2 separate regions of the Homo sapiens genome follow, and region 2 is linked to region 1. Evidence: fine-mapped expression QTL. A gene starts in region 1. The other region holds a variant in brackets. All regions are shown on one strand. Distances are between the middles of the regions.

Region 1 (16,829 bases):
ATTATGCAAGTACTAAATGCCAGTGAAAGACCAAGTATGACATATTTAGGCTGTCCCTTTTAAGTGCACAGAGAAATTGCCTTACTTAGTTTTCTAGGCAGACTTTTTCTTAAGTATATCAGTTAAAGTTTGCAATAAATCCTGACATTAATTTGGGGCAATATAATTGAGCTCAAGAAAAGCCTTCCTTTAAAAATTCACAATTGTAATTACCATCTACACTAGTAAAATATTATACATAATAAATATTTTATAAACTAGAAATATTCAGAAAGCTAATCTAGTATATTTTAACTCATAACCCTTATAACATATGCCATAAAACTTTCATTTAATATACATTGCATAATCTAAGACAGATATAAAGTAATGTTTTAAAACTCTGAACTGGACGAGGTGAGGTGGCTCATGCCTGTAATCCCAGTACTTTGGGAAGCCTAGGTGGGTGGATCTCTTGAGGCCAGAAGTTCAAGACCAGCCTGGGCAGCATGGGAAAACCCCATCTCTATAAAAAATACAAAAAATTAGCTGGGCATGGTGGTGCATGCCTGTAGTCCCAGCTACTCTGGAGGCCAAGGTGGGAGAATCACCTAAACCTGGGAAGTTGAGGCTGCAGTGAGCCATGTTTGCACCACTGCACTCTACCCTAGGCAATGAGTGAGTCCTTGTTTCACAAACAAACAAACAAATTCTGAACTGAAAATTTAAGGTGGTTATGATAGTTACATTTTTGATTTTGTAATGCTGCATGACTTGTCTTCTTTGATCTTTGATATTGCCTTAGACGCGGATGTAGCAAGAGCTTCTTCAAATTCCAACTGAAAATCAAATGTCAGGGGTATAGCCATAGTTGTTTTTCTTCCTTCACTCTGAAGCCTGTTTATCTGCAGCAATGCCAAAGTGAAAAAAAAAAAAAAAAAAAGAGTACTTTTTATATGGGGAAAATCTTAGGTGGAAAGAAAAAAAATCTCACTTTACACACACACACACACAGAATTTAGGTGGCAGGCAATAATGGAAAAATAGTACAGACTGAAAATTGGGGGTCTAGTGCACCAACTGTTTTTATGCCTTTGCTGTGTGACCTGAGTTGTTCTTTTCCCATCTGTAAAATGTGGGGGTAGGACTTGAGGATTATTAAGGCTCCCTCCTAATTCTAAAGTACAGAATTTAAGGAAAGATCTACATATTTAGATACATAGAGTTCTTGGAACCATAGTAGGCATGTCCCTCCAGCCTGCTCCTCTTCCTGTAGCCACACGCACGATGAATCACACCAATCTTCCTCTAGTCGTGAGAGCCAGAAATAGAGTGAAGAAAGTAATCAAAAGAGGACTTTGTTAAAATCCTTATACAAATGGATTGAAGAAGAAAAAGGATCTAGCTAAAAGGTGAGTAAAGGAGCCGAAAGTTTTCTCTAAAAAATTATCTCAGAGCATAGCTCAAAAGAATAAAGAGATGAAAACCCTGAAAGCAAAATCAAAGGATATGGGGGACTTCTGCTTCTGCCAATAGATGGAGCACTATGGGAATTAGTCTCCTGCTCTCAACAACTAGGAGCTCAGGCAAAATATATGAAAACAACTGCCCCCAGCTATTAGAAAACAGAGTAGGACAGATCGCTGAAAGAAGGGAAATAACTGAGGTCTACCCTCTAATAGCCCAGCTTACTTCCTGGAGGTGGTTTCAGGGCTGAGGTGCAGGGAGGAGAAACCCATTGGATTGGGGGAACTCAAACCAAATCTTGCGGCTTTGATCTCGCTAAAGTTAAGAGAAAGATCGCACCAGCAATCACACTCTCACGCATTTACCTCAGAGAAATGGAAACTCATGTTCATACAAACCTGGATGCAAATGTCCATAGCAGCTTTATTTTATTTTTTAAGCAGCTTTATTTTTACTAGTAAAATCGTCAAAACAATCCAAAAGCCCTTCATGGGATGATTCGTTGAAACTTTGTACATCAGCAATAAAATTTTTATATTTGTATACATTACATTTTCAACTAGTATAATTAGTTGCTTTTTACAAATTAGTTTATATCATATTAATGTATCATTAGCTAAAAAGTAAAATTATTCACATTTGAAATGTTAACCTGTTAATGATTAAACTGAATTGTAGCTTATACGTCACAAACCTTTGTTCTTCTGGCCAAGATTATCTCTGCTTGCTTATCAAGGACATCCAACTTCTCTAGGATTTTTTCTGCCATTGTCAATCACTAAATTCCTATTTTAAAATAAGGAGGAAGAAGAACAAATCAATTCAAATTTAAACATAAAACTAGGCATAAGTTTTCAAAAGACTCACTTTTACATTACTGTTTTAGGTAAATAATAGAATTGTTTAAATCATACAGTAAATCATAGAATTGTAAATGTACCCAAGTTTTTTCAATTGAAGGCTATATGATCAGAACTCCCAGATATGTATAGGCCCCATGAATTTTTAAATTTATGATAAAGGTGAGGGGGAGAAAGTTCACGATTACCATGAGAACCATATGTGACTTATACTTGAAGCAAGACCATGTGGCTTGACTTATATCTATTTTCTTTTTAAATTTTTTTAATTAAAAATATATCAAGCTAGGAGTAGGACTTAATTTTGTCGTTGTTGTTGTTGAGACAGAGTCTTACTCTGTCACCCAGGCTGGAGTGCAGTGGTGTGATCTTGGCTCACTGCAACCTCCACCTCCTGGGTTCAAGTGATTTTCCTGCCTAAGCCTCCTGAGTAGCTGGGATTACAGGTGTGCACCACCATGCCCAGCTACTTTTTGTATTTTTAGTAGAGACAGGGGTTCATCATGTTGGCCAGGCTGGTCTCAAACTCCTGACCTCAAGTGATCCGCCTGTCTCAGCCTCCCAAAATGCTGGGATTACAGGTATGAGCCACCGTGCCTGGCCAGGAGTAGGACTTTGGACATATCTGTTTTCTTTTTGTCATGATATAATTTTAATGAAAGTAAACACAGGGAACTCATATTTATATAATTAATTGCTTCAAATTAAATTGGTCAATGATCCAAGACTGTTAACAGCATGTAGCAGGCAATTAGTCACACATAAGTAGCAGCAACTAAGCTGGTTAGGTCCCATTGCCATAATGGTTCATATTTCCTAGTTAATTAATATTGCTAACCGTCTCATCTGAGGTCAAGCAGTCCATATTAAGCTTAGGGAGCTGTATGAGACATCAGAACCTGGTCTAATTTATTACATCTTCAGATGAGAAAACTGAAGGCCACAGAGTACCCTATTAGTGTAATAGAAATAGCTAGGGCAGAGTGGAGGCAAGAATCCAGGAATATCAACCCAAAGCTCCCTTTATTTATTTATTTATTTATTTATTTATTTATTTATTTATTTATTTATTTTAAAAATTGAGTAGATGGGTCAGGCACAGTGGCTTATGCCTGTAATCCCAGCACTTTGGGAGGCCGAGGCGGGCAGATCACTTGAGGTCAGGAGTTCAAGACCAGCCTGGCCAACATACTGAAACCCTGTCTCTACTAAAAATACAAAAATTAGCTGTGCGTGGTGCCACATGCTTGTAATCCCAGCGATTTGGGAGGCTGAGGAGGGATCGCTTGAACCCAGGAGGCAGAGGTTGCAGTGAGCCAAGATGGCACGCCACTGTGCTCCAGCCTGGGTGACAGAGTAAGACTCTGTCTCAAAAAGAAAAAAAAAATTGTGTAGATGACCATGCATTCAGTATACTTTTGCTCACTGAATTAAATGGGCTCCAGTGGCATTTAAGTGTAAAAGTGATATCGTTCACAGAAAGTACAGAATCATCAATGTTTTCAATGAATATTAATGTTAATACTAAGGTTCTTTCCAGCTCAGAAAAATCTCTGATATTTCTCCTATATTGTATATTATTCCAGCAATGCCACATGGAGACAACAGTTCATGAAAGGAGAAAGATTCAGGATCCGATGCCAAAAGTTTACATTATTTTGTAATTGGTTTCCTTCAGCTTTTTTTTTACTCTTTTTTCCTTCACCATACATTGCCCTGAGTATGATTTCTTCATGTACTGAATGACATCCCATCCCAGCATGCCCTCTATCACGTCACTACATCCAGATTTTCCCTCCATCACACGATGTAGTCCAGTGTGATAAATAAAGTATACAGACATGCTGGGTGTGGTGGTGTGTGCCTATAATCCCAGCTACCTGGGAGGCTGATGCAGGAGGATTGCTTGACCCTAGGAGTTTGAGACCACTCTGGGCAACATAGCAAGACCTCATCTCATGAAGAAAAAAAAAAAGTAGCCAGGCACAGTAGCATGCATCTATAGTCCCAGCTGCTGGGGAGGCTGAGGTGGGAGAATCAAAAGGATCATTTGAGTCCAGGAGTTTGAGGCTGCAGTGAGCTATGATCATGCTTCTGCACCCCGGCTTGGGTGACAGAGCAAGACCCCATTTCTTTAAAAAAAATTACACAGAGGAAATTCTGGGCCATGGGGGTGCAAGCAGATAGCCTGCCTTGTGACGAACCACACAACCTCAGGTTGCACACTGGGAAGGGGAGATCCAGGATTGTGAAAGCTGATCATATGAAATGGGTCACTCTTGTGGTACCTAACTAAAACACAGTGAGAAGCCAGGGTAAGAGAAAACACTCAGGGCACAGAACATCGCTCCAAAAATGCAGTCCCTCTGCAAGTCTGGCAGCTGAAATTGACTGCTGTGACCTAAACCAGTTGTATCTAATAGCTACTGAAAAGACCTGTGGCAACTCTAAACCAATTTTGCCCACAGCCTTCACTTACCAATCTTGTCAGTGCCTCAAAACCTCACTAGTGCCAATTTGTAACATTTCCTGGTTTTATAAAACCTCTAACCTATTCTTTGTTCTTCAGAATATACTGAAGACTACTGCTCTGTGTGTATGCCCTAATTGCAATTATTTCCTCCCAAATAAATATTTTGATTTTAGAGATTAGTCTCTATATTTTATTTGACATTGACAGGGTAAAGGCATTAGCATAATGTGAATGCTGATGACTTTCTGGATTTCTTACAGGACAATAGGGGACAGATTTTGAAAGAGAACATACATTATGATTATGTGGACATATTTTCTTTTCAGACCCAAGAAACATCCCTCTTGTAAAACTAAACTAAACTAAAACTCTCCGAGGAGTTTTAGCTTTTGTGTTTCCCTTAAACATAATATGAGTTCAAGAGGGGGAGAAGGCTTTCATATTCCCCACCTAAGTTTATTTTACTGGAGACAAAGATTTCTATTTTTCAGCAAGACACAGGTAAATAACTGGAAGAATCAATGTATTGAAGTGAATGAGTTTCCCAGTTTGGGGAACGTATAAACTACATGAGGGCCAGCTGAAACAATGCTGCTCATTTGTGAGAAAGAACAGAAAGCAGATCTTTTTACAGTAAGGTGTCCTACACCTCTCACTTTTAGTCACCCCATCTTCAACACCACATAGGACATTTTAAGAGGCAAAATGTCATCCCATTATACACACACACATACGCACATGCACGCACATGCACACACAGCTGTATTTTTCTATATACAGTTAACCATAGCATGAAATAATTTTTATGTTTTTGCTTTAAAAATAGTTTGCTAAGAGTAAATTATTTGGCTATGAATGATTTCTGGAAAATCACTGTGCAGATCATGAATTTTTTTGAAGTGAGAAAAACTAACCAATTATTTTCAAGGGTCAACAACAGTTTTATGAATACTAAATTTGCCGGTTAATGAAATTGACTGAATGTTAGTTTTGTAGTATTAATTTCATATTTTGAAACTAATACAATTTTTTCAGTTTGCAAATTCTTTTCTCCCATCGGTCTTTGGCAATGTGCCAATGGTGCCTAATGGATAAATGGCCCTGGGAAAAAGTGGAGGTGAGGAAACACTATAGATTAACTTGCTTGCTTTCATCATTATATTTCATAAGTTCATCAAGGGCCTATTTTGTGTCTCCTCAAATAAATGCTGAGAGCAAAGGAACATCAGTACTAATATGATGGTGTTCCCCAACTACTTTGCATAAACTAACTACTAATCTTTTAATGCAAAATGAATCAAGACGATATTAAATGGGCTGGGCGCAGTGGCTCATACCTGTAATCCCAGCACTTTGGGAGGCTGAGGCAGGCGGGTCACTTGAGGTCAGGAGTTTGAGACCAGGCTGGCCAACATGATGAAATCTATTAAAAAAAGAAAAATACAAAAAAAGAAAAGAAAATTAGCTGGGCATGGTGGTGCATGTTTGTAATCCTAGCTACTCTGGAGGCTTAGGCAGGAGAATCCCATGAACCCGGGAGATGGAGGTTGCAGTGAGCCAAGATCACACTACTGCACTCCAGCCTAGGTGACAGAGTGAGACTCCTTCTCAAAAACCAAAAACAAACAAACGCAATGCCATCAGAGCTGTCTTTCTTAAACAGGACACTGATCAGGACCAGTTCCAGCCCACAAACCTTGGCTTGCTCTCATAACCTGAAGAATACCCAAACTCTTCAGATGACATATGAGACCATCCAAGAAAAGATAGTCCAGGATCTGGCTCAGCCCACCTTTCTAGTTTATTCCTCCTTCCCCTTTCTGTTCCACCATTTTCTACCACTCTTACTTCCTGGACACGTCCTGCCCTTTTCTCAAGCACACCATTCACTCCTGCATTTCCTTCTACTCAGAATGTTCTCCCACATGTCTTCCAGTCAAAAGCCTACTCTTTATGAAATATGGTATGAAGACTACCTCTTCTTTTTTTTTTTTTTTTTTTTTGAGATGGAGTCTCGCAGTCTAGGCTGGAGTGCGGTGGCACAATCTTGGCTCACTGCAACTTCCACCTCCCGGGTTCAAGTGATTCTCCTGCCTCAGCCTCCTGAGTAGCTGGGATTACAGGTGCCCGCCACCACACGCAGCTAATTTTTGTATTTTTGGTAGAGATGGGGTTTCACCATATTGGCCAGGCTGGTCTCAAACTCCTGACCTTGTGATCCGCCCACCTCGGCCTCCCAAAGTTCTGGGATTACAGTGCCCAGTCATGACTACCTCTTCTATGAAACTTTCCTTGGCATTGTCTCATTCCTTGTCTCGGTGACAGTCTATTTATTGTGTGCTCCTGGCCTCAAGCAATCCTCCAGCCTCTCAGCCTCCTGAGTAGCTGGGATTACAGGCAAGAGCCACTACACCAGGTTTTAAGAGGTTTACTCGCTGGGCGTGGTGGCTCACATCTGTAATCCCAGCACTTCAGGAAGCTGAGGCAGGTGGATCACTTCAAGTCAGGAGTCGAGACCTGCCTGGCCAACATGGTGAAACCCTGTGTCTACTAAAAATACAAAAAAAAATTAGCTGGTCATGGTGGCGCACGCCTGTAATCCCAGCTACTTTGGAGGTTGAGGCAGGAGAATAACCTGAACCCAGGTGGCGGAGGTTGCAGTGAGGTGTGATCGTGCCACTGCACTCCAGCCTGGGTGACGAGCGAGTCTCCATTTCAAAAAAAAAAAAGAGGTTTACTCTTTGACAGATCTCTTCCTTACTGGGTTGAAAGCTCATTTGAAGCAAGAATTGACTTATCCACCTCCGACTCTCAGCCTCAGGCAAAGCGTTTTACATCTAACGGGGATTTGAAAATTACAATTTAATTTGGAGATGTCTCTGAATATAAATTTTTAGGAAGAGTAATCCTAGTTTATCTGTAATAAATGATGTTACTTCATAATGATTTACTGGAAGATGAAATAAAAAGTTGAGTGTATTATTATAAAATGGGGTTATTGCCAATCTAAACTTGGTAAAATTGTTTTGAAAGGAAACTTGGATTTATGTTCTTAATTTCTAGCACAGTAGTGACAGTTTTTTGTTGTTGTTTGTTCGTTTGTTTTTAAAGAACACAATGAAATAGAGGCCATGCCAATTGGGGCAGAATGAATTCCCAATTACTCTCACAGTGAATCATCTACAGGCCTCACTGCAAAAACTTGCTCTCAACAAAAATTGTAGGTCAATATTATTAGCATATCAGAGACTAAGTCATATCTAAAATAAAAATGTCTTAAATATTTTAAGAGAACAATTTTATTTTAACAGCACCTTTGGGACTAAAAACAAACAAACAAAAAATAACAAAACCCAGTGTCGTCAATATAATAGGCTCAGCTGAGAAGAGTTCTTCAGCAAGTTCTAAACAACTCAGGAAAACTAAGAATCTCTAAAGTTACAAACTAAAGGCCTGAGAAATTATCTAGAAAATGCAGGCTTAAATTAAAATTCACTTCCATTATGTGGCTTTATCAGTTCAAATGCTTACTCCTTGAGGACGAGGCCACTTCTTACACTCTTATCTGACACAGTCCACTACTGAGACCACAGTAGGGACTCACTTCATCTGTTAAATGATTAATGTTTACTCAATAATTAGATAACTGGCTGAGTTATCTCCATCTCACATTCCAAGGATAGACTTAGGGGAATCTTTTTTCTTTAAATCTAAAATGTTGATAAATGGCCCATATTATAGGCTGAATTATGTTGCCCCTAAATTCGTATGTTGAAGTCCTAGGCCCCAGGATCTCAGACTGTGATTGTATTTGGACATACAGCATTTAAAGAGTAAAGTTAAAATGGGGTTGTTAGGGTAGGCCTCTGGCCAGTATGACTGGTGTCATATAAGAAGAGGAGATTGGGACACCGAGGATACACAGAGGAAAGTCGTTGTGAAGATTCAGTGAGAAGGCAGCCACCACCCCAAGCCAAGGAGCGAGGCCTCTGAAGAAAACAACCCTGCCCACCTCTCCATTTCCAACTTTTAGTGTCTAGAACTGTAAGAAAACAAATTTCTGTTGTTTAGCCACTCTGTCTATGATGTTTTGTCATGACAGTCCCAGCAAGCTAGTACAGCCCAGGCACTGAGAACTAATTTAAAAACCCGACCTATGTGCTTAGTTCCGCATTATGCATTTTCTTGTCCCTTATTTATTTATTTTTATTTTTGAGACGGTCTCACTGATTCTGTCACCCAGGCTGGAGTGCAGTGGCTGCGATCTCAGCTCACTACAACCTCCGCCTCCCAGGTTCAAGCGATTCTCCTGCCTCAGCCTCCCCAGTAGGTGGGACTACAGGCGCCCACCACCATGCCCGGCTAATTTTTGTATTTTTAGTAGAGACGGGGTTTCGCCACTGTGGCCAGGCTGGTCTCTAACTCCTGACCTCAAGTGATCCGCCCGCCTTGGCCTCCCAAAGTGCTGGGATTACAGGCGTAAGCCAACGCGCCGGCCTGGAAGGGAAGTTTCTAAGAAAAACTACTAAGGAATTTTAAAACTATGATGTACGTGGATTGTGGAGTATTATTGTGGGCGACTAATCAGATAATGATTGCAAGAATTGATTAGCCAGCTCGAAATCGCAGCACAATTACCGCAGGGGCGATCAGCTTCCACCATCCATTCCAGGATGTTGGGAGTCGTCAATTTGGAAATGTATCAATTAAGCGGCCCCCAGAGCCTCTCGCATCTCTTGCCCGGCCCCGAGTCACCTTCCCCCAGGTGCCTCCATCTCGCTGGAAACATAGGAAGCCCGACTCAAACGCTCTATGCCTATGGTCGTTTCATGGGAAAGCAAAATTAAGGGCAACATTGAGGAAGCTCATTAATATTTAGTTTAGAAGATGCAAAGGGTTCTTCCGCGAACCTGGAAGAGCCCCCCGGGCTCGCCTCTCGCCGCGGTCCCACACTTGCCTGACCTCAACCACACTCTCCCGGTCCAGGCCCCGCTGGAGAACGTCCCACCGACTCCGGGGACAGAAAGGCCGTTTATGTAAAACGACGTTTTTCCTATTTCGCCTCCCACCCTCATGCAAATTTTGATTTTCAACTCTTCCAACCCTTCCGCACCCTGAAACAAACCTCATCTCCTTTCCTCCCTCTTCTGGCTCCGCGGGTTACTCGCCCCGCCCCCACCCTTCAGTCCCTTAGCAACGCGTCCTCGGTCCGTAGAAACCGGTTGCCGAGCTCTGCCTACCTCTGAAAGGCCTAGAGAGCAGAGTTCTCTTCTCAGAGGGGCTTCGCCCACAGACTTTTGTCACTAAAAGCCCAGGTGACTCCCCAGATGCTTACGGATATTAAAACCGATTATGCTGAAGGAGTGGAAGGAGAGTCAAGTAAAAGAAGAAGATCAAGTAAAAAGAACTGGGGAACAGTGACTTTGTTTCCCCTTATTGTACCTCCTTTCTCCTTTTGTGCTTTCCTGGAAACATCGAATTTCAAAAAGAAGCTTACAAAGTCCACCATACAGCTTGCAGGTCTGAATGGAAGTCAACAGTTTATATTTGAATATTTGATGGAAGATTGCTTTCATGGCTTATGATATTAAAAACAGCAACAACAAAAAACCATTCTTATTTCCAAGGCCAAGAAACCTCCCGTGTGGTTAGTAAAATCACCACTGTATTACGCAAGTTGTGTAGCAGACTTGGCTGCACACACACATACCACTTAGCATTTTTATGAGACATAATGGAGATACACTGACATACATTCTGCTGTATTTACTGTATCCTAAGGAACCATTTGTCCTTATTGCTCACTTGTGTGAGCAGAAAATGCACTAAGGCCATGGGAATCATTTATTTTTAGAGCCATAATCTAAAAATGACTGACTTGAAAACAGCTTGTATTTAATTTAAAATGATGGGGAATTTCACAATATTGGTTACATTTTAAGTCAGGGGTTGTTCATCATTCCAAGAATGTACCTTATCTGATGCATCAAAATAGGGGGAAAAGCTTTAAAAAACAGCACTTCAACATCTGTGAGAAGAAAAGGAAAAAAAGCACCAGAATTAATCATCACAAGTCTGTGCTAGTGGCAATGGCAAAACTGCAAAAAAAAAAAAAAAAAAAAAGTATAGTTATGTAGCAATCCAAATTTGGCTAGAAATTGATATTAATAGTCAATGCATGAAAACACTGGAATCAATTTATTTCAAATATTTAAAAAACAAAAATACAATCATTAAAAGTAGAAGGTAGTTTGATTCTTTTCTGTTGCCCAGACTGGAGCACAGTGGTGTGATCATAGCCCACTGCAGCCTCAATCGCCTGTGCTCAAGTGGTTCTCCCACCTCAGCCTCCCTAGTAGCTAGGACTACAGGTGCATGCCACTATGCCAGGCTAATTTTTTTATTTTTATTTTTTTGTAAGGACAGGGGTCTCACTATGTTGCCCAGGCTAGTCTTGAACTTCTGGTCTCAAGTGATCCTCTTGCCTTGTTCTCCCAAAGTGCTGGGATTACAGATGTGAGTAGCCACTGCGACTGGCCAAGGTAGCTTGATTCTATTATATTTTTTAAGCCATATACATTCAGGAACAATGGTTTGTATGGAATTGATAACTGGAATCTAGTTGATAGTGGTGATTTGTCTAAGATTGTTGTAATACCTTCAGCTCAAAAATTTGTACAGAGGTGAAAATTAGCTTCTTAAGAATTCAGTTCAGAAACGTTAGCTACTCATTAATCTTCAGTCAATAAAATTTGTAAAGCATGAATCTTATGAAATTCTTAGAATATTATCATTATCTCAGTTAATATTTATGGAACACGTTCTGCATGTCAGGTACTAGGCTACAACTTTAAAATAGTTCTAATTTCATCCTTTACTTTTCATTCTTAAACCTTAATTCGTATCTATGGAAAGGGTATTATCTTTGATTTTAGAAAAGACCTGACTGAAATTCAAAGAAACTATGTGATTTGCCCAGCATCTTATAATTAGTAATACAATTATTAATATAACACAAAGTACAAAGTATTTTCTCTTTAATAACAAATGTTTGGTAAATGTACACAAAAAAGAATTCAAGTGGATTTTTTCCTAACTACTTTAATTGCTCTCAGTTAAATTCAGTATTTACTGAATGAGTTCATGAACCTATTATAGATAAATACTGGGTAAAGGAGCCTAATGAATGTTTTATTTTAAAAGTATACAGATTTCTTAAAATATAAACTGTATACTATAAGAAAACAAAGAAAATAAAATCTGCAGACTTTTTCCTGCTTCCTTTGAAGTAGGCCAACTACAAAGTTAGAAAGCACATTCCCCAAAACTGCCCTTACTTCTGACACCAAGTTCAGGGGGCCGTCAAAACCCTGAATAGAACCCTCAGGTTCGATAATTTGCTAGAAAGACTCACAGACCTTACTGAAAGCTATTGTATTTAGGGTTATAGTTTATTACAGGGAAAGGTTACAGATTACAACTAGCCAAGGAAAGAAGTTCACAGGGCAGAGTCAGTCCCGAAATAACAAATGTGGAGCTTTTATTGTCCTCTTCCTGTGGAGTCAGGACAGGTTACTCCCTAGCATTGTTGAATGACAATGCACACATGGAGATCTGCCACCCGGGGAAGCTCACCCAATCATTGTGTTCAGAGTTTGTAGTGGGGCTTCATCACACAGGCATAATCGGTTGATTAACCACATGGTTAATCTCTATCTCCAAGTTGATGGATACCACGTGACCCAAAGCCCTTGCCTTAAGTCACATTGTTGATCTTTCTGGAGTGGCCAGTCCCTACTCTAAGACTATGCAGGTGTGGCCACCTCCCCATCCTAAATCACATTGTTAGACTATCTCATATGACTCAAGGTCTCCAGGCAAATAAAGCTCTTTCTATCAGGCATAACATTCCTAGGGCCCAGAGATTATATCTCAGAAGGCAAGGGCAAAGGCCGGACTTTCTTTTCTTTGGGCAAGAGAGTCTTTCCTATAAATTCTTTACTATATACCTACTAGGTTTAGAAAGTATCAAAATTTGTACTTAATCATCCCCAAATGGTGAAAAGCCTGTGATTCTCCACCCCTGCCTTCTGTCCTCTCTTGAGAAAAGAGCATTTTTTTTCCCTTGCCCTACACAAACCATGAAGCCTGGGAGAAGTGTCAGTATTCTTCACCATTCCTAATGTTCCTTTCACATCTTTAAGTTTCTTCTTCCTTAGGAAAAGCTGCCTCTTCTGAGGTTAATGACAACTATCTCCCCATACATATTTACTAACAAATTCCCAGGCATTTCTCACTTTTACAGATTTGGGGACTTTCCCAATGTTCCTTTCCATAATAAATCCATTAAGCCAATAGTTTTGCCTCAAAACTCATTATCTTTCCAGATTAAAGCTATCTTTACTTCATTATCCCCTAACTCTGAAATATTAAGCTCTAACAGGTCCTCTCTGATCACTACCTGTTATCCCTTCTGCCCATTACTTCTCTTATTCTAGATAATGTGCTAGTTGGTCACTTAATGACCTTCTGTCTCTTTTATTTGTGAATCCAATGGACGTCTTTCAGGTCCTATGTTACTTGACAATTCTTCTGAATTGGACACGTTTTACTTCTGGCTCTTTGAAACATTCCCTTCCCTTGGCTTCAATTACACAACTCTCTCCTACTTTTCTTCCTCTGCCTGCTGTAAATATCATTGTACCCTGGGATTCTTTCTTGTTTGTGTGTGTGTTTTTTTTCTCCCTTTGTTTCCTTCCTAGGCTTGACATTCCCTTCCAAATTCAGTCAAAACCATGCAGCATAGAATATAGAACTTCTACCATCTGAGCCCATTCTATGTTGAACTGAGTTCTGATTGTCTTTCTAGCTTTATCTCAGCAAACCCATGGTACAGAAAGTGACTACCTTGTAACTTAATGGGAATTTTCACAAAGTTTTGGGCTTTTTATATCTGTGTCTTTTCATGCTGTTCCCTCAGCACAGGGACTTCAGAACTTCTGCAGCCCCCTGGTTCTAAGGATGGAGAAAGTTATCTATGTTAGGCCAATGAGATCACAACACCCTGACCACAGTGACTGGCTCAGGGAGAAGCAGGTGACTAATGGGAGGCCAGTCAGGGCCCAGACAATTTTATTCCGGGACTTTGAGCCTTCAGGGAAGAAGACTTCCTCTTCTAGTCTGCCTGTTATGACAATTTGAGCCTTATGCTATGGGAGCCACTATGAAGATCCTAAGAGTGGAGTCAATCCAGGGGAAGAAAACTGAGAGCTGGACCTGGGCAGTATCATTTGAGCCCAGGGTCAAGCGATCACTGAACTTAGAGCTACTCTAGACCTCTTCAGCTAACATGATCCAGTAAGTTCTCTTTGTGTATAAACCAGTCTGATTTATTTTTCTATAGAAGTAAGCCTAGAGACTGATAATATGCTCAACAAATATTTGTCAAATGAAAGGAAACCATAAAATGGATAGATTAACTATCTCAGAGGGCTGGTCTGAGAAGTAAATGATTTACCAGTCATTTACTTTTGCTAGGCCAAGCACAGTGCCTAGCAAAAAGCAGGTACATGAAACGTTCATTATGTTTCTATGCCTCCAGCACTCTCCCTGTCACCACACAGTCCACACAACATAGCTCAAAAACTGCTACCTGAACTTGATTATAAGTTCTAAGAAAACTCATATTCACAAAAATTTGACTTCTTCAGTCCTAGGCTTTTTCCCCATAAGTCTTTTTCTTCTATTAAAGACCACAACTTAATATTTACTTATGTTTTTAAAGATCACAACAGTAAACATATTCATTTGTATAGCATCTGCTACAGTTTGAATATTTGTCCCCTCCGAAAGTCATGTTGAACTTTAATCTCCAGTGTGGCAGTATTGAGAGGTGAGGCCTTAATTTATATTTTTTAAAATAAAGATAAAGTCTTGCTATGTTGCCTAGGCTAGTTTCAAACTCCTGGACCCAAGGCATCCTCTACCTCAGCCTCTCCAGTAGCTGTCCTACAGGAAAGACCCACTGCACCCAGCTTGGTGGGGCCTTTAAAAGGTTCTTGGGTCATAAGGGCAGAGCCCTTATGAATGGATTAATGAATTATGGGTTAACAGATTAATGGATTATCATGGGAGTGGGATTGGTGGTTTTATAAGAAAAGGAAGAGAAACCTAAGCGAGCAAGCATAACCCCCTCACCATGTGATGCCCTGTGCCACCGTGGGACTCTGCAGAGACCTCCCAGCAGCAAGAAGTCCCTCACCAGATGTGGCCCCTCAACCTTGCACTTCTCAGTCTCCATAACTGTGAGAAATAATTCCTTTTCTTTATAAATTCCCCATTTTCAGATATTCTGTTACAAGCAACAGAAAATGGACTAAGATAGCATCTTGCAAGGCTTCACTTACTATGCATGCAAAAGCAAAATATTTAAAGTAAAAAATTGTTAGATCTGATTTCATAAATATTTAAAATTTCTGTATGTCAAAAAAAGTCATTAAAAATGTAAGATAGGTTAAACTTGGAAATGTGTATAAACAAAGAGTATCTTAAAATTTTGCAAATCACTAAGGACAAACACCATAATGAAAAAGAATGTATGCTGAATATAGTCACTTTATAAAAGAATACCTACAAATGATCATTAATTATATATTTGATGTTCAATGACATAGTCGAAGTCATGTACATTAAGCCAATAAAATATAATCTTTTTCTTATCATCTTGGCAAGCTGGGGAAAGGAACAGAGAAAGATGCACATCTATGCTCTACTGGTTGAACTGTACATTGTTAGGATGGGAATTTACAGTTTATGTAAAAACCTTAAAAAATGTATTAATCTTTGACTCAGCAGTTTCACTTCCAAAAATTAATATTTAGAAATTAATCATAGAAATGAACAAAACTTGTAACGATGATTTTTATTTAATATTTTTTATAATGGTAAAAAATTTAAAAGTTGATAATAACATCTATCATCTATTTATTGAATTCTCACTTATTAGATTTATTATGTGTCAACAATTGCATTTTCACATACATTGTCTCATTTATTCTTCATTTTATAGATTAAAAAATGAATTTAGAGATATTAAATATTCTGATCAAGATCACAAATCTAGTAAATGGCAGATTCAGAATTTAAACCCAGTTATATTTTTTTCCAAAGCCTATGATCTGAATTACTATTTTTAGATTTTCTTGTCAAAATTTTTGTCTAGCCATAGGATGATAAATATGATGCAGCTGTTACAAGAGGTATGAAGAAATACGTAATAACATAGGAAAATGTGTATGATATTGTGTTAATTGAAGAAATTATAAGATTAGAAAGCTTTATACACAGAATGATTCTTTTAAGACAAAGTATAAGTCTCTGTTCAAAGAAAAAGATCTGTAATAAAACATCCTCAAAAGATAGTTATCTTAGGGTGGTAAAGTATATCTTGGAAATATTTTTCTACTTTGTATACTTTTGTATTTTCTAAATGCACAGACTAATTCATAGTAGAAACTATTAATGTATTATTTTTGCAGCCAACAAGTTATTAAAACACTTCAACATGGCCAAAAGACTTTTTTCTTCTTGTGAGACTGGAAAAGTCAAAAGCCTCTTAAAAAAAAAAAAGTTTGAAATTTCTTTCCACGGGGCACTCAAAAAAGTTTTTACAAGTCCGGTCCAGGGACTCATGTCTATAATCCCAGCACTTTGGTAAGCTGAGGTGGGAGGATCATTTGAGGCCAGGAGATCAAGACCAGCGTAGGCAACACAGCAAGACCCCATCTCTACTAAAATTAAAAAAAATTACCTGGGTGTAGTGATGCATATCTGCAGTCCAGCTATTCAGGAGGCTGAGGTAGAAGGATCCCTTGAGCCCTGGAGGTTGAGGCTGCAGTGAGCTGAGATCACGCCACTGCACACCAGCCTGGGTGACAGAGTGTGCAGTGGGATAATTAAGGAATCAGAGAGACCGTGGGATTGAGGAGGAATTATTTAATTATTTAGGTGCACGGACCCAGTCGATTAACATCCAAAGGGCTGAGACCCAA
Region 2 (8,000 bases), 970 kb after region 1:
TACATGGGAGTTGCATTCCTGGAAAATTCAGTATATTTTAAAACCATGCAAAATATCCTTTTAAAAAAATATGTAACATGGAGTTTAGGACCAAGGCTCAGGTAACTATAAAAATTTTTACCTACATAAATTTCTAGTGGAGTGTTTGAAATTTGTTTAGGACTGTGTCCTTCATTGTGGGACATTTGCAGATTTCTCCCTTGCCCACTAAATCTCAATAGCACCTCCTCCCTCAATTATTGTGACAATCAGTTCCTCCACATTCAACAAATTTTCCAACACCTCCCGAGCAGCACTGCCATCCTTGTTGAGAACGTGTATCTAGTTCATCTTAAGATAGAACTGCCCCCCTCATCCCCACTTTCTCTCCCAAATCCTGTGAAAGCCCAGCACAGGCACTGGGGGATACAGCAAGCCACTTAGGAGGATTCCCAGCTTGTGTCATTGAATCATCTTTAAATTTATTTTTATTTTTTTTTATATGTCTTATCATCTTCCAAAAAGGATGTTTTGGTGAACTGCAAAGAGATATACTCAGAGACAGGAAAAAGATCTGGTAGGGTGAAGAATGAAAGAAAAACAGGCAGGCAGAATAAAGCTGAAAGCTGAGCCTAGTATCTAAAACGCACACTCCCAGGGCTTGTATACTCAATAAAGTTGAGAAGTAACTGGGTTGTCAATTTAAAGAGGAATACTTGATCAGACACACAATTCTATGTTGATAAGATTAAAAACAAGCTCTAGTCATCCTTCCGTACCTGTAGGAGATTGGCTGTAGGACCTTTGTGGATGCCAAACTCTGCAGATACTCAAGTCCCTTATGTAAAATGGCATAAGGGACCATTTGCATGCAACCTATGCCCCTCCTCCCATATACTTTAAATAATCTTTAGATTACCTATAATACCTAATACAATATAAAGGCTATGGAAATAGTTGTTATACTATATTTTTTCATTTGTGTCATTTTTATTGTTATTTTTAATTTTTTAGAATATTTCCAATCCATGGTTGGGTGCGGAACCTGCGGATACAGAGGACTGACTATAATATCAAGGTAAGGACATGGATTCTGGACCCAGACTGCATACATTCAACTTGGCTTCACTTTTACAAACTGTAGGACCTTGAGCAAATCACCACATGCTTCTGTCTTGTTACCTATAACAGGATAATATCACTACCTACAATACCACACAAGTCTATTGTGAGGATTAGATAAATTGGTGCACATAAAGTTCTTAGGAGAGTATACAGTAGTTACTTGTAAGCACTATATAAACATTTGCCAAATAAGCAGAAAAAGTTCTCAGAGAAAACAGTTTTTACCAGCAGTTTTTCTCACTAATAGATGTGGAATTGAATTACCTAGATTGAAAACTCAGAGGAAACTTGACATTCATCAATTCTAATCTGTTTGTGTTACAGTGCAGGAAACTGCAGCCAGACACTGAAAGTCTAGGGGCCAAGCTCACATATTAGTTGAGGATCCACAAGTTAGTTGAGGATCCTGGTCCCCTGGTTCTTTTCTGCTGCTCTTGCCAATATCTCGGCCTGGAGCTGGCCTGTGGAGGGGTGCAGAGAAGCAGCCTATTGTCTCTCCTTCCCAGAGTGTCCACAGGTTCCAAAATTCTACCTTCTCCCAACTGTTCTATAACACCCCAAACTCTCATTTCTTCCTAAAGGACAGAGAGCAAAGAATAAATCAGGTGTGAATGACCCCTAAACTCAAACCCTCAAGGAATATGCAAACACATAGTAGAGTTCCTTTAAATATAGTAAATCTTCAACTTTGAGGAAGAGGGCGAATGGGTAGGTGGGAGGCAAAGGTTTTAAATTTAGAAATTAAAATTGAATTGTCTAAACTGGCAAAAGTCTCACCACTTTCCAGTTGTGAGACTGCACACAAAGTTACTTGAGAGTCTCCAAGCCTCATTTTTCTCTTCTGTAATGTCAAAACAGAGATCATAAGGCTGTCGGAATGGACTCTTTGTGGCAATAAGATACCATATTATAAACAGGACCCAAGGTCATGCCAGGTAAGAATGAAGTCACACACCCTTCCTCTTAAGGAATAAACTATATTGTAACTGCCTCAAGGTTTTTTCTTTCACTCTAGCAGTTAAACAAGCACTGATAAGTCTCCAGCCCACCATGAACATGGGACACATGCAACATGCATGTTTGCTTTACTATGTATGCGAGCATCCCCCACTTCCTAAATATTTATTGCCCCCTGTAACCTGCTGAATATGTAAACATAAACGTGGCCAAACCGTTCAGCATAAATTCCTGCTTTACCCCTCTCTCCCTTGAAGTGCCTGCTTTTGGTGTCTGCTGGAGGCTATGCTTCCCAGCCTATCAGGATGGCCACCTGCAGGCTGTAACCTTTTGTTAGAAGTAAAGCTCTCCTCTCCAAGTTTCTGAACCTTGTGATTCTTCAGTTAACAGTAACATGGGGATGATAATAATCAACACCTCATGGGTTGTTGTGAAGAAGAAATGAAATAATACAAAGCACCTAGCACCATGCCTGGCAGAGAGGGGCCAATAAATGTTCATCATATTTGCTATTATTATTATTATTATTATAGGCATCAGCAACCTATCAGAAGAGAAATAGTTTTCCTTTGCTCTTTGAAGAAAGGAGGCCGCCCCAGAAAGGCTTTATTCGTGTCCTCTTACTCCATGAACTTAGTTACCTTGTAGAGGGGAACGGGAATGTCTGGAAAGAAAGAACCTGAAGCTCAGTCCCGATAGGATCACATGAAGCGTCACAAAGACAGAAGGGTTGCAGGGCTGAATCCAATTCAACCACTCACTCTAGTGTGTTCCTGAGAGTGCTGTCTTCTCTCTCTGACCCTTAAACAAATATGTCTACGTTCACTGTCCAGAATATAATATAAGACAGGGCTTGGTATTATTAAGATGCTGCTTACTAAATGAGGAACTCTGAGATATTGCACAAGAAATCTAGAAACTTCATGAATTGGGGGTGAGTCTCCCAATGGTGAAAGTTCAGGAAGACTGGCTGCAAGGGGCTTTGCAAAATACACGCTTATAAACACACTTTCTCTTCCTTTAACAAGGAAAATGATAAAACTTCATAGTTACAGCGAGAAATACTGGGAAACAAAAAATACGCTCTTAAAATTTCAATAACTTCATATATTCATTCTACTTAGCTGTTACGGGAGAGAAATCAAATATCTTACTGTTGATTTTCATTTTCCAAGGGACTTTGAACTATGTGTGTAGGTGGCAGTAAATACCTTCGTTATAGCTGCTGGGAGCTGCAGACTCTGCACACACAGGTGAAGGTGGTTAGACTTGTGTTTCCTGGGAAGCAAGGGCAAGTAAGGAGTGTCTACCATGGGCCAGCTATATGCCTTTGGTATTCCATTCAACACCCTCCTCCCTGTGTTAGAGGAAACATTTCTCCTCCTGCATTCTTCCCAGCCTGTAACAGGACTTTCTGTCCTCTGGGGGATTGGGAAGTTATTTCCTGCCCCTTCCTCTTTTTACTTCTTCCCAAGGGAAAGAATGACTTCTCTTCTTAGGGAGGTTGGAGAAGGGTCCTAAACAGCGGGCTCTCTTGTTTAGGCTGACTGTGAGACAATTTTTTCATTGCTTCTGCTTTCCTATGGGGAGAACCGTTGAATCGTAGCCTGGGATCTGGAGGTTGATGTCTCTCTTCTTGCTCTCCAGAATTCATTGATTTGAGGCATGCATCTGACCTCCATGTTTCTGCACCACAGACTCAATTCTCCTCATGTGCAGGTCCAGACCCAGCTGGGGTTGTATCATTTTGAAGGTCATCTGATTGCAGGTCCACTTTAAGGGCTCCTACTCAACAACCAATAAAGGTCCTATATTCATCTGTATTTGCTGAAATATGACTATTTCTCAATTGGTTCAGAATCAGAGAAGCTCTACTACCCAGAAGAGTTGGAACGGGCCTTGAAATGTAACCCAAGCATCTTATTATACAGGTAAAAAGCCAAAAATCATATGCCCCTCTTGCCAGCTGACCTTCCCAGACCCCACCCAGGTCTGGCCACATAATAATGTGCATTGCCCAAGGTGGCTTGATTGCCTGGTCTGGCAGCTGGAGGAGTGGGCCCTGCACCTGACCTCACTGTGTCTTGGCTTTGTCCAAGTAGACCCCTTGCCTTCGATTGTTTTGTGCCTAATGTTTTCACTCATTTAGAAACACCTGCATCTTTCTTCCCCTGGCAGTGCTCTGAACCCTTTTTTTTGCCGGGGGCACTGTCACCAGTGTCTTGAGATATGTTCCTGTTCTGTATCTGACCCCAGTGGACCGGAACCTGCACGTAGGTCTGCTGCCTCCCTGCCTAGCGCTCTTTCTGCTCCCACCAGGGTGCATACCTCTGTGAATTACATGGCTGGACTTCTCTTAACATCAGACTCTATTAACTAGAACAATAGTTTTATCTCATCCTGTGATTCAAAGACGGTTGCTAGGGAAACCAGTGGGGATATGTTTAATCTGTAAATCCTGTAATTGCCCTAAAGTAGCAACAATTCATGTGCTTGCTTCAAAAGGATTTGGACTGAACTGACTGGGAAGCAGGTGAGTGAAGAAGAACAATCACAGGTTGGCTCCCCTTGTGATCTGTTCACATTCCTCATAAGGTGTTTTTTCCTGCTGCTTTGCCAAAAAGCTAAAGGGATTAAAGAGGGAGCACTGCGGTGCCCTTCTAATGGACCAGGAAAGCTAGAAAGACAAAATTATGCAGTTCTTCTCTTCTTATGGATTCAAGTGGTCAGAGCTGAGTGATTGGAGGCTGTACTGGTGGTGATGGAGAGAGATAAGAGGATAAATACTCCATTTTATTTTAAAATGGATTCAGAATCCTATAATTGTAGTTTGTAGGGGGATACTAACTCCAAATGAGGAGAAGCAAGGTATTTGGGAAGTCTTATCAGAAGAGGCCAGGGTGGTCTAAGCATAGGAGCACAGAGTCGGGTTTGGAGGC[G/A]TGCCCAGCATCATCCCCGCCAAGCCTTTCCTTAATCCACAGCAGTATTCAGTGGGTCACCCACATGCTGCTTGGGCACTGCCAAAAATGGAGAACTTGCTCCTTCCCAGAGCAGCTCATTTTGTGTTTAAACAGCCCTGATTGTTAGAAGATCTGCCTTAAATTGAACTGAAACATGGGGTGCTGGGGGCAGGGGACAATTTTCCTCCTTGACTTGGCTGTCTGGCGGAGCTCACAGAGGTTTCTTCATAAGACATGCCCTACCTCTGTCACAGGGCCCACACCCAGCAAGCCACACTGGCTCAAGGGCCCAGAACTATCCAGACCGTTGAAGAGTCCCACCTTGAGGCACAGGACAGAAGCAGTAGGGAGAAAACTAAACATTCCTTGATGTAGTGTTTGATTAAGAATAAAATGCACAGCTTCTGTCTCTCGGGGCCCTGCAATGTTTGTGATTTAAAAAAAAAAGCAAAATCTAAGTGCAGACCCTGTTTCCCAGGAGAAAAGTCACACGAAACTCTTCTTTATACAAAATGGTTCTGAGAATCATCACTACCATTATCGGTGGAGATGACTCAGTATTCTAGACTTAGCTAGTTATGCAAAGTCCAGGGAGGTCATTGTGCTCTCTTTTGGAAACATAATAGTTCCATTAATGCAGCTGAATATCACATTTGCTCTGAGCAGCTGCATCCCACTGCTGACTCATGTTGAGCTCTACAATCAGTGAAAACTTGGAGGGTATTTCTCCTTTGTAGGTGCAATATCATATGATCCCTCCTAAGCCCAGCTCTATTGGGACTATGGGTGTCCAGGGTCCCTCCTAGCTCCTTGCCTGCTTTTGCTGTCAAGTTTGTGAGTTCACCTTCTGTATTTTAAAATTCAGGATTGCAGCCTGGTGCGATGGCTTGCACCTATAATCCCAGCACTTTGGGATGCTGAGGCAGAAGGATCTCTTGAGCCCAGGAGTTTGATCAAGACCAGCCAGGGAAACATAGGGAGACCTCATCTCTACTAAAAATAATTTTTAAAAAAGTAGCCAGGTGTGGTGGTGCATGCCTGTAGCCCCAGCTACTCAGGAAGCTGAGGTGGGAGGATGGCTTGAACCTGGGAGGCCAAGGATGCAGGTAGCCATGATCGTGCCTCTGCACTACAACCTGGGCAAAAAAGCAAGACACCTGTCTCAGTAAAATAAAATTTAGGATTGCAGGGATTGCACCCTCCTGTCTCTGGTTCTTTGTTACCTATCCTGATCTGTGAAGTCTTAGGCAGTCACTGCCTGTGCATAGTTGATGTATCTATGTGGTCCCATTCTCTTCAGCTCTAATTTATCCAGACCAGCATGTTTAATAAGGTTAGATGTCTGATCTACCCTTTATTAATGTCTATTCTCTTTTCCAATTCATTGACAGAAAAGTTGGAGGAAAGCCAGGAGCCAGGGAGTTTTGCTTTCTTTGATCTGTTGAAGCAGCATAAGTAGTTTACCTAAGAGTATACTGCCCTTGTGAGAGGTAACAATGCAAGATTTTGGAAAAAGACATCTAACCTGAGTGCTTATACTTTGCATAACCCTTTTGCATTGTTTAGTACTACTGGTTTTTATGCTACTTAATTGTTTTAAAACAGGGATTTATAAAAATAGACACAATTTGCTAAATTCTCATTCAGTTCAGTCACTCTTAATGGAAAGTCTAGTTTTATATGCCACAAAGCCATAACCAAGGTGCCACCTCATTGTAGAAAAAGAATCCAGAAAGAAAGAAATGGTTTTGAGTAGCAACTTTGAAAATTCCAAACTATGAAACAAAGGCAGAAATCACTGTTACAAGGTCCTTGGCTTTCCAGGAAGTCCAAAACCCAAATGAAAAAGGCATCTTGATTTTCTCTCTGAACTCTGCTCAAGGTTTACTAAGAAACTACCTACCACGTATAAATGGGAAACACACAAAAGATGTATTTCTTGGAAGGTGAGGGGTGTTAGTGATTTTGGCCTCACATTAAGGGAGCCAGAACCTGCCTGAACTGCTAGAAATAAGGGGTGGAAAGACAGGACTGGGTTCTGGGGCTGCATCCAGGGAAAACATGTCAGTACCGTACACCTAACACCAGATGAGTGGACAGAGACATGTCAGGAGAAAAGAGGAAAAAGGAATGCCCCGGGCTCCAAAAAGAAAAGGATATGGGATTGGTGTAAGGGTCTGAGGGATGAGAGAAAAGAAAAGATGGTGATACATAATCACTTCTCTTTTTTCCTTCAGAATGATGACCTAAAACTAAACATTGGTCACTGCAATCAAAGTGTTAATATGAAAAATCAAGTACCTCGCTCTGAAATTTCAGAATTTCTTGGTGGGGAGTTAGGACTAGGAAGAATCACAGCCAAAAACAACTAACAGTAACTCCCATAGCAATGCTCTATATTTAAGATGTAGATACATCCATAATATATATACTCTGGAGTGGTTTATTAAAAGGCACTTCGAGCCATTCATAAAGAAATAAATGATAGTGCAAGGCAGCCGGACTCAATGGCCAGGAGGGGAGTTAGCAGTGAGTGCTCTTGAGGAGATGCCGAGGCTGGGTGGGCAGAGGGTACTTCGAGGGGGGCCTAAGGGAGCCCTCAGTGGGCCTGGGTGATGATGTCCTCAGAATTTCCCAGTGTGTGTGACCTCTGCAGCTTGAGTGTTCCTAAGGGAAGTTTGGAGGATAAAGACAGCATCTCTGGGACACCAGACCAGTGTCCTTCAGGTCTGGGAGCCCCACAGAGCAACAGCTGGGAAAGTATACGGTTATTGGAGGCAAAACAATCAAAATTCCATTCCAGAAACGTGTCCCTTGCAAACCTAGGTACCTGCTGCTCACTGTTCAATGGTGGCAGACATTTCAGTGTAGGCAGCTCAGTGCTTCTCATGCATAGACAGACTGCTTCCCACTTCCCCACCCAAGGGGCACCTGGAAACGCGTGTGCATGTGTTTGTCACTGTGTGTGTGTGTGTGTGT

Evidence for each region. PIP is the estimated chance that this variant, and not a neighbour inherited with it, causes the effect.
Region 2: its variant is fine-mapped to the expression of C1orf141 in hippocampus (GTEx, PIP 0.98).

What each region holds. Positions count from the first base shown.
Region 1 is chr1:67,125,026-67,141,854 of GRCh38, forward strand. It overlaps C1orf141 (chromosome 1 open reading frame 141), which reads right to left and starts at 9,945. Exons shown (of 8, transcript NM_001276351.2): 1 at 9,905-9,945; 2 at 6,117-6,202; 3 at 2,141-2,232; 4 at 727-884. The coding sequence starts at 2,215. It also overlaps a transcript of IL23R not described here. RefSeq lists an enhancer at 12,178-12,688.
Region 2 is chr1:68,098,736-68,106,735 of GRCh38, forward strand. It overlaps GNG12-AS1 (GNG12, DIRAS3 and WLS antisense RNA 1), which reads left to right. Exons shown (of 10, transcript NR_040077.1): 4 at 1-101; 5 at 994-1,057; 6 at 1,963-2,039. It also overlaps a transcript of WLS not described here. Among named protein-coding and RNA genes, the nearest start is that of DIRAS3, 52 kb to the left of the region's middle. The variant G/A (reference allele first, on the strand shown) is at 5,001.